Homo sapiens: one gene and its partners. The protein of the gene in region 2 purifies or fractionates together with the protein of the main gene of each other region. This does not show direct contact. Each region holds a gene or a part of one and is shown on either strand. Other genes may lie near its edges.

Region 1 (3,783 bases), on a different chromosome or scaffold from region 2:
CTGCAACTTTATAATAATGAAAATTAGAAACAACCTAAATAGTTAACAACATGGGAATGGTTAAATAAACTGAGTTGCATCCATTAAATGGAATATAATATAGCCATTAAAATTATGTTTTTGTAAAATTTTTAATGCCATAAGAAAATGTGGCAATTTTGCAATGAAAAAGATCTACTTATAAAACTGTTTACAGTATGACTCCAATTATGTAAAAAAAGTATACAATACACATATAGGCATACATGGGGGTTGCTTTTTAAAGGTGGTTACTTCTGGGTTGTGATATTATCAGTAATCATTTTTGCTTTTTTATACATTTCTGCATTTTTCAAGTTTTCTATGATGAGTATATTATTTTACAAAGACTACGAAAATTTTCCTCTGATATACTGGTAATTAGAATGTACTTGGGTATTTTAAATATATGGGAACAATATTATAGTGCTTCATCTTCTATGACTTTTTTGGAATACATATCACTTTGGTAATAAACTTACATTCCCTGTTTTATACTTGTTACAACATTTTAATTAAACAGTTAATATTGTGATTAGAGCATTGTTTGCTTCATGACCTAAACAAATACTGGCTTTGAAGTCTAGGTTCTATTTCCTAGAAGATTTAACATTAGTATCCTTTTAATCTTTTTAAGTAAGGCATACTGCATACATACATTACATGCATGCTTTCTAAACAAAAGATAATTCCAACTTACAGTTTTCCTATGTAAGGGAAAAAATGGAATTATGGTAGTTTAAAAGCAGTCCATAGTCTCATCCATCACAAACATGCTGATAGGCATAAACGTGTTTATTAAGTGAAACGTATCCTTTAAAAATAAAAAAGGGAAGCCTGTATATAAATGAAGTTGTGGATTCAACTAGCCAGAATTTATTCTGACTTGCACCAAACCACACAAAATCTTTTAAAAGTCTAGTTAGTGTAGTCTAAATGGACACTCCAGAGTCTGTTCTTGAATTCCATTGCAAGAGCTCCAACTTCCTACTTTCAGAAGGGATGGGGATCAAGATGAGGGTTGTCACATAAGCTAATTTTCAATATATATCAAGTCTTGTGGGGTCCAGGAACAAATACTGTCATTGGTTAGTGTTTAAGTACATGAGTTGACTTTTCTCCTCTCTCACACCCCACCTTGCCCTGGCAATTGGGTAGGGGGAGGCTGTTTATCCTCCAAGAGAGGACGGCTGGTTCCTCATCTCAGTTTCCGTTCTAAACCACAGAGTGGTCATTGCTGTGAACTCCAGCCAAGATGGTGTGGTTGAGGGAGGAAGCCGAGCGGTCTGAGCCTTCTGTGGGGCCGGTGGGGTTCTCACTGCGCTGGCAGCAGAGGATCTGCCTAAAGGTGGCGCTCATTTCTTTGTCGCGGTAGGAGTAAATGATGGGGTTCATGGCAGAGTTGAATTCAGCAAGGAGAAGGAAGAATTTCTCATAGGCCAGCACGTCGCACTGTGGACAGCACACGTCTAGAAGTAACAAAACCAATCCAGGAGTCCAGCAGATGATAAAGGCCCCTACAAGGACAAGGATAGGGATCAGAAGGATTTTTAAAAAGAGAATGAAAAAATATTATAAAACATGCGACCATAAAGTGAAATGATTTCAGTTCAATATAAAAATACTGAAGTTGGAAGCCACCATTGTCGCAAATGAAATACTCATTTCCTGAGAAAATCAGAAAAAATTTAACGATAGTCAACTTAAAATTTTATTTTGGACGTTACTAAAATCAAGCAATTATGAGACATTGATGATTATTATTTTGAGCAAAACACAAAGAGTTTGATAAGCAATTGAGATATGAAAAACTGCATTCAGGAAACACTTCACCTCACATAACAACATGGTTTTTAATAGCAGTGTTATTTTCAGGCAAAAGATAAGCACGAATGATAAGTGTCCTTTAATGTTTAATTAAGGCATAGTTTCTGGATTCAGGTTGTCTGGGCCCAAATCTTTGTTTGACATGTAATAAACTGGGTGAACTTAGGCAAACTACTTTCTTTCCTTAATTTTCCCATCTGAAAATGCAGATGATTATATTTACACCTCATAAGGTTTGTTGTATGGATTAAACAAGTGTTAAGGAAATAATCACTCAATCTGTATCTACAATAACAATAATAATTATTACCTGCTGAGTAGCATGGGCCTGTTTGGAAATTGTGATTTTCAATGACAAGATCTATGTTTTATTTTTATTCAACAACTACCCACATAGTGCTGTCCTATATGCTTTACCAGTAATAATTTATTGAATTTTCACAGTAGCCATATGACATAGAAACTAATATCCCCATTGTACAGATGAAGGAACTGAGACCCAGAAAGTTTATATAACTGGCTCAAGGCCACAGTACTGGAAAGCAGAAAAATCCCAGAGTTTCTGTTCTTAGAGGCTGCCTCCAGAGTTCAAGCTCTAGAAAATATTACATTTCTATATCTTGAAAATGATAACATTAAATATTTTAAACCAAATTTACTATTTCAGATGTTCTACTAATTTAGATCAACTTTGTTCTCTTTCTTCCCCCAATTATTCTGAATCATTACAATTTTACTATAACTGTAAGAGGAATGAAAATATAGATGAGATGCTTAATTCTATTTCATTTAGTTTCTGAAATCACTCATCATTTGGATCCCAGGAAAATGGAGGTTGTAAAATAGCATTAAATCCTACCACTGTGTTACTCCAGACTCTGCTGGGGATCTTCTACTGAAAGAACATGAGCCAACAGCGGTGGGCACCACTGTGTCCCATTACACCTCACCTAATGGGCCCCATATGTGTAATCAGGCAGGCTACATATGTGTAATCAGGCAGAGCGGAAGTAGGAGCAACCCCAGAAGGGCATTTGCATCTTCAGATTTAAATGGCGCTGGCTTTGGTGGATGCAGGCTTGGACTGGGGTCATGGATTTGGTCCAGCCTCAAGGAATTAGTTTCACAAAATGTAAACAAATGAGATTTAGTCTCCAAACAGCCCACTTTTGAATCTGAGCTTTCTTTTGTGAAACTTTTCAGCAGGGAAATGAAAATAAAGGAGAAAAGTACCCCCATAAAGCTCTTTGTTCTACAACACAAATGTGTATTGGTTTTAAACTGCTGTTCACTTTGAAGATTGGCCAAGGTACTTCATTTTCTAATAAATACAACACCTTAGACTTTCCTTGGAGAGAAAAAAATATTTCAAATATCAGGAGATAATAGCCAAGGAGCAATTTGAACTTCAATAAAAATGTTAATAAAGCATTCATTCCAAGTCCTTGAATTTCCTTGCTTGAAAATCACTCAGAAAGCTAAACATAAAGGAAAATCAAAGGAATGCCTCTTGGGTTTCAGAAATAATGCATTATTCATTGAGAAGCCAGGAAGGGAATTATTCTCAGGATGGAAAATGCTTGGATGGAAAATGCATGGTCCCATTATGCCATTTACTTGGAAACTAAAAACACACAGTCCCTTCATGAATGGAACAGCATTCTTTCAAGTTTCCTTTCCCCTTCCTTTTATCAAAGCTCTAATTGAGTTCAAATTCAGAACTTGATTAGACACAAGGAACATGCATCTCAATAGCTAGATTTTAAATAAAATGATCTTTTTCTCCTTCTGGGCAACAGAAGGGAATATCTTTATTCTCTCATACTTAAGCTGCTTGACTTTGCTCAAAAGTGAGAGAATTCAAACACTGTCATTTGTTGTTTATAATTTCTTCCCATGTTAAAATTTAAAAGGTGTAAGATCTTTCCAGAAAGAGCC
Region 2 (4,066 bases):
GAGATGGCAAGGAATTAATTACATATATATTTTAACTAACTTCGGACTGAAATTTAGTATTTCTTTAAATTATGAGTGTGGGGAAGACACTGCACAGTAGTGTGAGCAGTAGCTGTGACTATCACAATAGAATTCATAAATACCTTTACATCTTATGGTGATCTCAAAATACCATTTATTCTGAACATCACTAATAGACTTTCTACTAGATCTTTTACTTAATATGTTAATAAAATACATGATACTGCTGCATCACAAATTGGTATTTTAAAAATGCTGATAACTATTTCAATATAATTGGGTTCATTGATAATCCCCTGTATTTTATTTTATACATTTGAAATCATTAATCTGAGAAGGGGTTCATAGGCCTCGCCAGATTGCCAAGGAGGGCTCGTGGGTGAGAGATTTCCTGATGGTTGCTTCAATTTTGGGTTCGACTAATGAAGCTTGTGCTTTAAAATCAAACTACATTTTAAGGATTCAATGATAGCAGATCACACTGTGAGCAGATATATTTAGTAGGGTATTAGTTTGCTAGGACTGCTGTAACGAAGTGCTAAAAACTGAGTGGCTTAAAACAACAAAAATGTATGATCTCACAGTTCCAGAGGCTAGAAATCCAAAATCAAGATATGGGCAGGGCCATGCTCCCTCTGAAACCAGTTTCCCTCCTTTCCTCTTCCAAGTGCATACTGGTTTGTTGGCAATCTTTGTCATTCCTTCTCTTGTAGGTGCATTCATTACTCCAATCCTCCATCTGCGCATGGCATTCTCTCTTTTGTCTCTTTATATCATCTTCCCTCTGTGCATGTCTGTGTCCTTGTCCAAATTTCCCCATTTTATAAGAACATCGGTTGTACTGGATTATGCCCCAAAATAATGACCTCAGCTTGGTTAAATCTGCAGAGACCCTATTTCCAAATAAGCTCACATTCTGAGGTACTGGTGGTTAGCACTTCAATATATTATCTTTTAGGGGTCATAATTTGATCCATAACAAGTGGATTCAAGTATCTATAAATTATCAATAATATCAGAGTTATGCTTAGTGTTCTAATATACAACTGAATAATATATATTAAAGAATACATTAAAGTATAAATTAGATGGTGAATATTGAAGCCATAAGAATAATCAATTATCATATCCAAGGATTTTAGAAACATGGATTTCTTACTGGTTTTTGTTTCTAAAAGTTAGTAGGTAATGGGAAAATGGCAGCTCTTAACAGAAATTTTCTTTAATTATAACTTAAGGCAAGTACTTTACAAAGAGATATGAGCATTCATTGGCCTACGTACTCTCTGATTATTAGAAATCCCCGATAAGCTAAATTAAAGTTTCCAAGGCTAATATTCTGTGGTGTGTGAGTGTAGTGAGCCCTGGGGCGGGCTCACTACAATATAAATATGTATTTATAGAAACTTCCCAATTGATCTAATTGTCAGACAAGTGTAAGCGTGAGAATTACTGGTCTATATTTTGCAAAAAAATCTATATTTATGACATAGAAAAATTTACATGGGAAAAATTACACATTGAATAGGGATAAGTGTTTTTGAAAACTGCCAAATTATATTTAAAATTAGAAACTTTAGGCTGGGCACAGTGGCTCACGCCTGTAATCCCAGCACTTTGGGAGGCCAAGGTGGGCGGATCACCTGAGGTCAGGAGTTTGAGACCAGCCTGGCCAGCATGGTGAAACCCCATCTCGACTAAAAATACAAAAAATTAGCTGGGTGTGGTGGCACATGCCTGTAGTCCCAGCTACTCAGGAGGCTGAGGCAGGAGAATCGCTTGAACCTGGAAGGCGGAGGTTGCAGTGAGCCGAGATTGTGCCACTGCACTCCAGCCTGGGTGACAGAGGGAGACTCTGTCAAAAAAAAGAAGGAAGGAAGGAGGGAAGAAAGGAAGGGAGGGAGGGAGGAAGGAAGAAAGGAAGGAAGGAACTTTAACTGAAAGCATAAAGGACTTTTAGATCTATTTGAGCAATTTTTAATCACAGCTTTTTTCCCTTGTCTTTCACTCTGACACAGATTTCAATAGCTTTGACAACAATTTATAAACATATAGTCTACATATGATGAGAAACTATCTTCTCAGTTTTGTTTTTTATTAAGTTTTTGTCATATGCAAAGCTTGGTGATTAGAGTGAAGAAGCTGGAACAACAGAATTCCTACCGTGGTCGATAGTGAGATGAGAAATGTCCATAAGAAAAGAAACCAGACACATGACCCCTATTTAGTGAATCCCTGCTTGATGCTAGGCAATGTGCTAAACACTGGAGAACTATAAAAAAGCCAGACATGTTCTGCCCTCATGGTGCTTACAGTCTAATGAATGGTATAACAAGTAAATGGCTAACTTCCAAATGGGTAACGATAAGAAGAGTAATAATAGAGAAACGTAGTACCATGGAGCCTATAGAAGGAGCAACTATCTCAGCACTGGGTATCCCAGCTGGTATCTGAGAATAATTATAAATTAGTGAGATGATATGAAGAGAAATAGATTCTAGGTAGAGAGAAGAGCATCTAAAAGGCCTGAAAATGATAGTTCATGGTTCTGCAGAGGAACCTAAACATTCATTGTTGCTTGAACTTAGAAAGTGAGGCAGAAGAATGTATAGGAAGATAGGCCTTCAAGCCAACAGAAGCCCAGAAAAGCTACTTGCCAAGGAAGTGTTTTCAGGGAGGTATTCACATCACTAAGTAAATGAAAAGATGGGCTTTGGGTGAGATGGTCAGGAAAGAGTCAAGAAAGAAGAGATAGGATTTGAGTGATTAAGTATAATTGCGCCCAGTTAAAAAGAGAGGCAACAGGCATTGAGGACTTGGTAAGCTGAGATCAAAGCCAGGCAGAAAAGCCCAGAGACCATGGGGTACCTGGGAGGGAGAAGCAGCCTGACTGCCACAGGGAGATTGGTTTGGGAGCCAAAGGGGTGGGAAGGCATTTTGGTTGTCACAGTGCCTGAGGATGCCCCTGGTATTTAGTTCCCAAGGTCCAGGGATGCTAAGACTCTACATTCTGCAGAACCTTCAAGAATTGGGCACGTGTGAAGAATTTTTCTATCCAAAATGCTTATAGCACCCACATTGAGAAACAGTGATAGGCAAAGTAAGAGGTTCTAAGTAGGGATTTATTTTACTTGTCTGGACCCTCTTTTTGAAAGGCAAATATCTCTTGGGTTGATTACGCCTTGATACATTCGTCCACTCAACAAATATTGAGCACCTACTCTGTGCCAAGCACTGTTCCAGGTCTCACCTCGAAATCACACCTGACTGTGGATTATTTTCATCAGTCAAGGAGTTTCCATCTGGCTGACTGGGGAATGTTTTGGATGGAGATGAGAGGAGATGAGACCGTTCAGATTTCCCTCGGTCTAAAACACCTCCATCCCACCACTCTTTCAAGCCCCCTACAATGCAAACAAAAACATTAAACAATGTTTGATACCCACTGCCTCAATTTAATGATCCAGTCTCCTTAGACCCCAAAAGTGCTAATTGAGAAACTGGGCAAGGGTCCTAGCTCAGTCATCATCTTCTTTTAAAACCATTAATCATATCATTTCTTGTTTCAGTTATCGCCTTCCTTTGCTTTCTCAGTATTCTGGGGTTCCTTTCACTTACAGGAACCTGCAGTGCTTCTCACCCCTTTTTATCTGGCCTAGCACGATGGGCAGACGGCAGAGGGGGGGACACAGTACATATATTACTAGGAGACATCAAGTAGGGGTGGGAGACAATGGCAGTGGCCAAGAGGGTGCTGCCCTTAGGACAGTGTGCATGTGGATGTTGAGAATGTCCCCAGTGGCCAGGCAATCCATGCTCGTCATTGAGCCGCACTGCCCTGCTCTCTGTTATGTAGCATCTCTCCGCCCTACTCAGATACTTTCCCCAGGACCTAAGCTTAACATGTCTACAATCTGTCTTCTGGAAATTGCATCTTTCTAGCCACTCAGACTGAAAACGTTGGCACCCTCTGACTCCTTCCCTATTATCCCCACACAGGGCATTGCCAAGGATTTTTGTCCCCATAAAGACTCCTACTTCTACC
Region 3 (3,783 bases), on a different chromosome or scaffold from region 2:
CAGGCCTAAAGGTGGACCTAGAGGGAAGGGAAGGTTTTGAACAAGCAATGAGGAAAGTGGAGGACAAGTTGGGCAGCGAGTGTGACACAGCCAGGACTTGGGTAGAGCAGCCTTGACAATTGGATCCATGGGGCAGCAAGGCAAGAAGGGAGCTAGTCACTCACCTATCCTTAATGGGCAGTGGTAGTCTGCTAGGCAACAAATGATCAGAGAACTACCCAGTCCAGGGAACCAATGGAATGTCACTGAGTTCCTGATTCTTCCCAGCAGCAACAACAGCTGTGGTGTTCATCCTTTGGCCAACACCCAATCCAATCCTGTCTCTTACCCTGTCTCACAGGCCCTGGGGGTTGGTGGAAACAGGGCAGGGGTTGGGGTCTGGATTCTGAGCTGTAGGAATAGGAAATGAGGGGAGATGCTCAGGTTACCTGGTTCCGTACAGACTCATTTTTCTGAGAAACAGGATCTGTGTGCATCCAAAGCTCTAATGAAGTTCTTAAGGCCACCTGGGGGGAGGATGAAGAAACAACACTTAGAATCAGTCTCCTGTTCTGGGCCATGCCTAGGGGATAGAAGTCAAGGGAAGAGGCGGTGGTTCCTGCAGTTAAGACCGCAGAACAACAAAGGAGGAAGATTTAATTAAAAAGGAAGGGGCTGGGGGACATGCCACATACCTGTCCCAGCTCCACAAATGAGTCAACATTCTCTAACTGCACGGGAAACTTGCCCTTCTCCATATCGTAGACCATCCTCGAGCTGCCAATGTAGTCAAAAGTTTCCTGAGAGATGGAGGTAGGTGGGAGGGGGAACAGAGATTCCAAAGGGTTAGGAGAGCCTCGAAGGCGGCCAGATCATCAAAGCTGTAGGTAAGACGACTATCTCAGGTCACCTCAACTGCTAGTCAGCTTACAGTCATGTGACTTTCGGCTTCTCTTGGCCCCACCTCCCAGCTGTGACTATCCCTCATATGTATTACAAGACTTCTGAAGCCCAGAAATGGGGAAAGTAGCCTTAGTAAAGGTCTAAGATGAACATCAGCTATTATGTGTCTGATTCTTAACGGTCCCCCACCTCCAGTGACTCAGCCACAGATGCTGTTCCCTTATTCTGCTGTGGTCCTAGTGATGAGAGTCAGGAGCCTAACGGCTCCTGGATGGAGATAGCAGTAAAGGAGTCCAGAGAATAAAAGTAAAAGGCCGCCTCCAATATATCTTATCAGTGGGGGAAAGAGGGGGCTGGTTACATACCAATTCAGGGTGTAAAAGCTTCCTAAAAAGAAGGAATCTAAGCTTCCTAAAATGGAGGAATCTAAAGGGGAGACACATGTAGACACATCCAGAAGCTCTGTGCTGGTTAACAACTTAGGTCAAGTGCTGAGGTCTTCTCCAACCAGTAGCCACTCTCATCTTTACTATCCTCTTTCTTCCCTGCCATTGCACCCCAGCCAAAGAGCCCTTACCCCTTGAAAGAAGACAAACATGACATTGCGGGGCAGGGTGGTCACATCAGGTGCCTTTTGCAAAGCTTCAGCAGCAGCCAGCTGGGTGACAAAGGAAGCCACTGCGCTTTCAGCCCCTGGGGCCACATTCCAGAAAAAGGAACGACTATCCAGCTAGGTACAACAGAAGAAAAGTCAGGGGATATATACTTTAAAACTGGCCCCAAACCTCCTTTCTTGCTCCAGTCAAGAGAATATACCTGTCCTGTGGCAATGGAGACAACCCAGGAGTCCCACAGCCCAGATTCCTCCCCATTTGAGGCTTCCCAATTTAGCAACTTTGAAATCTGATATGCTAGAGCGGGGCCTACCAGCTCTTTTTGTGCCAGCCCTGCCCATCCTGATCAGAAGCCAACACTCACCCGGGTGGCAGCAACCACAACCCTGTCGTCAGGCTTTAATGTCCCAGTTGTATTTATAGGCTTTAGCATGCTCCACACATTGTAATCAGACAGGGGGTCACAGACGATTTCTAAGCAGGACACAAACAATGAGAGATCAACAAGGCTAAAGGAGAAGGTAGCTATAAAGGCAACATTGGAAATCTCTGACCAGTGCCCCACGGACTCTAAGTCGTTTTCTCTACTTCCAACAGTCCGAGGTTGGCTTCTCTGCCACTATCCACTTTAGGAACAAGCTGCCTAAATTTTTCAGAATTGTTTCTAGTTCTCCCATGCAGAGCTCCTTCATGGTGTCTACTCCTTCCCTATTACAGTCTCTCTAACATTCCCTGGCCTGGTTCCACTCTCCCTCTGCCCCTTATTCCATTACCCTCATGGTTCGGATCTGCCCTACCTGGGTTGATGCTGAAGGTGCTTTGGATGGAGCTGCGCCGCATGCAGGTGGCAGTGCTGATGACAGCATGCATGTGTGAAAAGAGCTGCATGGCACATAGTGGGAAGGTTGGTGCTGAGCCATTCTGACTCAGGTTGTGATCTTGATAGCACTGAAAGGGGAGATGGACCCCACTGAGACAGCTAGTTTGTGGAGGCCCTCCCTTACATCCCAGAAGGAGGAGGGCCCAGTTCCATCCTTTTGGGATGGAGCCACACCCTTTTCGGAGACATTTATCCCTGAGCTATAGTTATCCTAGAACCACCATAGGATCTATAAGGTCAAAGAAAAAAACTCATCAAGAGTTACAAAGGGTTGCAGACTCAGTGGTTTAGCTGGAGATGAAACTATCCCATTCCAGATGGCCTGGCCCAATTTGAAGCTTCAGCCACTGAAAAGATTCAGTGTGGTCTGATACAAAGAGCACCAAACTAGAGATAGGAAATCAGATATGACACAGCTTGGAGATCAACTCACCATACAACTTTGGACAAATCTCTTAACTACTCTATGAGTCAAAATGGAAATACTAGACCAGAATTAAGGCATATTAGAGCTAAAAAGAAGCTCAGAAATTACCAAATTGAATTTCTCAATCTCTAATCCAATGCTTTTTTTTTTAACGATACTAGTGGTTCTTAACCTGGGCTGTGTACCTTGTTTCATATTACTCTTTCAGATATTCTTTATATTTTCTTCTAGTCTAAAAGGCTTTAATGCTGTAATATCAGGTAGGAGCAAAATGTGGGGAAAGAATGTGAGAAGAACTAACGTCTTGGTTCTTTTTGGAGCAACCGTCTTTCAGCAGGTGTACCAGAAGAATGAGCCACCCTCCAAATAGGAGAGCCTATAAAATAATCCTTTTTTTTTTTTTTTTTTTGTGACACAGGGCCTTGCTCTGTCACCCAGGCTGGAGTGCAATGGTGCCATCTCAGCTCACTGAAACCTCTGCCTCCCGGCCTCAAGTGATCCTCCTGTCTCAGCCTCCCGGGTGGCTGGGACTACGTGCACACACCACCACACCTGGCTAGAAAAATAATCTTCTTTCTAACTGGAATTGCTAGGAGCTGGCAGTGTCATTACCTGCTTGATGACTTTGGTTTCATTTTCATCTTCAAGAAGAAAGATGGGGAAACTAAAGTCTTCATAAGCCAAACCATTGCCCAGCGAATTCCACTGTATTTCTCTGCAGTGAGCAAACTCTGGCCCATAGGAATTGGAGTAAACACCTGAAGGGAAGGATGGGGAATAGGGGGACTGGTTACTGGGACACCAAGTACTTAGGAACCAGGTGACGGCAGAAGAATCTTTCAGTTGGGACTAAGAGTTCAAAAGGAGGTGGTGACTCAAAGAAGTAGGCATGAAGTCTATTACCATCCACACTAAAATAGAAAGACAATGGTATCAGGGAGTCTTAGGCTGTAAGATTAGGGATGTGAACACGTGACAAA
Region 4 (2,852 bases), on a different chromosome or scaffold from region 2:
CGTGAGGAAGAACCAGGCTTGGGGGACTCAGGCATTCAGTCAACACCAGGCTCGGGCCATGCCCCTCGTACTAGTTCCTCCTCAGATGATTCAAAGAGATCACCTTTGGGCAAGACTCCACTGGGACGCCCAGCTGTCCCCCGTTTTGGCAAGCCAGATGGGCTAAGGGGCCGGGGAGTAGGGTCCCCTGAACCAGGCCCAACAGCCCCATACCTGGGCCGATCGATGTCTTACAGCAGCCAAAAAGCCCAACCTGGTGTCTCTGAGACAGAAGAAGTGGCCTTGCAGCCATTACTGACACCCAAGTAAGTATTAGTACTATCCTGACCCTTAGCCAATTTCAAATTAGCATACTGCTCTGCAAAAGCTATCAGGGCTTCTGTTGTACATCCTAATGTAGGTGGACCCAGGGGTATCCTGGTAGCTCTTTATTTTCACTTTGACTCTACCTGCCTTCATGGGCAATTCCTGTTAAGAGACTGAAGATTAATACTTTTTCCATAATGCTATCTTCCTAAAAGTATTTGCTTGGGAGTAAGTACATGTGATAGCTGTTACTAGAGAGTAGTAGTACATAGGAGAGATTGGGAATCAGGCTTATTTTAAGCAGGGCAATAAAGGGGAATGTTTGGGTAAGAAAGTATGGATATAGAAAAGAACATCATTTTTTTCTCTGAACCTTTGAAACTGTCTCCCTTTCCAATGTTTTCTGTCCCATTTCCTGACACCTACGTCTTGTCTCTTCTTTCCAGAGATGAAGTACAGCTGAAGACCACCTACAGCAAATCCAACGGGCAGCCCAAGAGCTTAGGCTCAGCCTCCCCTGGCCCAGGCCAGCCACCTCTCAGTAGCCCCACGAGGGGAGGAGTCAAGAAGGTGTCAGGGGTTGGTGGTACCACCTATGAGATTTCGGTGTGAGCCTTCGGCACCTCCCCTCCCCAACGCCTCTGCGCCTACACCAAAGGGCCCCAGGTGGCCACCTTCCTTCCCTCAAGGGGCTCCCCTCCCGTGCATGGACATTTTTTAAACCACCGATTCCAAGAGGATGAGGAGTGTTTTCTAAAATGCAGTAGGCTTGGGGAGTCGGAGAGTTGGGGCCCTGAGACTGGGGTAGCAACCCCCCCTTTTATCTTTTAAGACCTTCCCTTCCTTGATCCCTGGACCAGACTCAGTGGACATTTGTGCAATTGCTCGCCCTGGAGGGAACCAGATCATTTTTAAACCAGAAATAATTTTTTTTATTATTGTTACGGATTCTATTTTTTTCCTCTTCTGCGTTACCAGGTGTGTGTGTACATATAATATATATATATATATATTATAAATATCAAAGAAATTATATATCTATCCTGGGATGGGAAAATGAGGGAGGGATACATATACGGAGGGGGATCTTACTCTTCCCATTCCTCAGACCAGCAGGAAAAGAGGGGAGACGTCAGTCTTTTTCCTGTGGTTCCCTCTCATTTGTCCCAGTTACTAACTACGGAAATAGCATCCTCTGCTGGTGCTAAGTGTGATTAGGAAGAAGCCTGGGGAGAGGTGAGTCTGGAATTTTGGTCACAAGAGGGAAGGACTTGGAGAGGAGAATTAGTTTTCTAGGCTCATTGGCATTTAGTTTCCCTAGGAAAGGGGTCAAAACTTCAAGACACTGGTGGTGGTGGGAGATCAGGAAAATAACTTGGCCTAGCTCAAACAATATTGGATAATCCCCTCCTTGGGGGAGAGGGATTAGAGTGTGCTCCTACTGGCCCCTTGGAGCCTCCCCTAGCTTACACAGTTAACTTGATTTTAAAATCCAAGGCCAGGAGAGAAGAATCCAAAAAGCAATATTTTTCATCACATGCCAAAAACGGGGGATAGAGAGAAGGAGTGGCAGGCCTAGGCCCCTCCGATTGTCCCTTGGGGGTTACCCCTCAGCCCACCTCACTATGGTGCTGGGTAGAGGGGATACCTGGGTTCTAACCTCTAAATAGGGGAGATCCCAGCCTCCACAAAGAGGCCCTTTTATTTTTTATTCTGATTAGCCATTTTAAACCAACGAGGAATAAAAAGAAATCCTGATCTAACCAGCGCCCCCTGACTTGTGTTATTTTGTCTGGTTGAGACAGGGTGAACGATCTCTGGTGGGAAGTTATCAGTGACAACCTCATAAACTTCTCTGGTCCCAGCCCATCTTTAGGCAAGACTATAATGAAATTAGCCACTTAACAACTAAAAAAATAAAAAAGAGACCCAGTGCGGTGGCTTATACCTGTAATCCCAGCACTGAGGGAGGCTGAGGCAAGAGGATCACTTGAGCCCAGGAGTTCCAGACCAACCTGGGCAACATAGAGACTCCATTTCTAAAAACAACAGGTCCTGTTTTTATTTGGGTGATTTAATTCAAAAATTCCTGAAAAAAGGTCTCTTGAAATCACCAAAACTGCTTGTTATTTGAAAGCTTAGAGAACTCTTAAAAGTTGTTTCTTTCAAGAGACAGGGCCTCATTCTGGTTGCCCAGGCTGGAGGGCAGTGGCACAATCAGATCACTATATCCTCAAATTCCTGGGCTCAAGGGATCTTCCCACCTCAGCCTTCTGTGAAGCTAGGACTTACAGTTGCATGCCACCATGCTTAGCTAATTTTTTTTTTTTTGGTAGAGATAGACTCTCAACCAATTTTGCCCAGACTGATCTCGAACTTCTGGCCTTGAGCAATCCTGCCTTGGCCTCCCAAAGCATTGGGATTACAGGCATGAGCCACCATGCCCAGCTACAGTTGTTTTTTAATACAGGATTTAGTCTCTGGAAAGTAAAGCTAATTTTGGAAACAGCCAAAGGTGACATAGTAACAGGTATGAAAGCCTGTTG

Evidence for each region. Proteins that work in one complex are often made in the same cells at the same time.
Region 1: the proteins of DSG2 (region 2) and LPAR1 purify together in Homo sapiens (co-immunoprecipitation; one large-scale study listed by IntAct). This does not show direct contact.
Region 3: the proteins of DSG2 (region 2) and NCSTN purify together in Homo sapiens (co-immunoprecipitation; one study listed by IntAct). This does not show direct contact.
Region 4: the proteins of DSG2 (region 2) and ZDHHC5 purify together in Homo sapiens (co-immunoprecipitation; one large-scale study listed by IntAct). This does not show direct contact.

What each region holds. Positions count from the first base shown.
Region 1 is NC_000009.12:110,874,188-110,877,970, forward strand, and holds part of LPAR1 (lysophosphatidic acid receptor 1), read right to left. Parts: intron 1,536-3,783; coding exon 1,234-1,535; 3' UTR 1-1,233.
Region 2 is NC_000018.10:31,500,868-31,504,933, forward strand, and holds part of DSG2 (desmoglein-2 preproprotein), read left to right. Parts: intron 1-4,066.
Region 3 is NC_000001.11:160,349,883-160,353,665, reverse strand, and holds part of NCSTN (nicastrin isoform 1 precursor), read right to left. Parts: intron 3,562-3,783; coding exon 3,416-3,561; intron 2,445-3,415; coding exon 2,294-2,444; intron 1,971-2,293; coding exon 1,861-1,970; intron 1,613-1,860; coding exon 1,460-1,612; intron 780-1,459; coding exon 675-779; intron 507-674; coding exon 429-506; intron 344-428; coding exon of another isoform or gene 335-343; exon of another isoform or gene 1-334. UniProt on the Homo sapiens protein: Essential subunit of the gamma-secretase complex, an endoprotease complex that catalyzes the intramembrane cleavage of integral membrane proteins such as Notch receptors and APP (amyloid-beta precursor protein).
Region 4 is NC_000011.10:57,699,114-57,701,965, forward strand, and holds the end of ZDHHC5 (palmitoyltransferase ZDHHC5), read left to right. Parts: coding exon 1-305; intron 306-752; coding exon 753-918; 3' UTR 919-2,069; downstream 2,070-2,852. UniProt on the Homo sapiens protein: Palmitoyltransferase that catalyzes the addition of palmitate onto various protein substrates such as CTNND2, CD36, GSDMD, NLRP3, NOD1, NOD2, STAT3 and S1PR1 thus plays a role in various biological processes including cell adhesion, inflammation, fatty acid uptake, bacterial sensing or cardiac functions.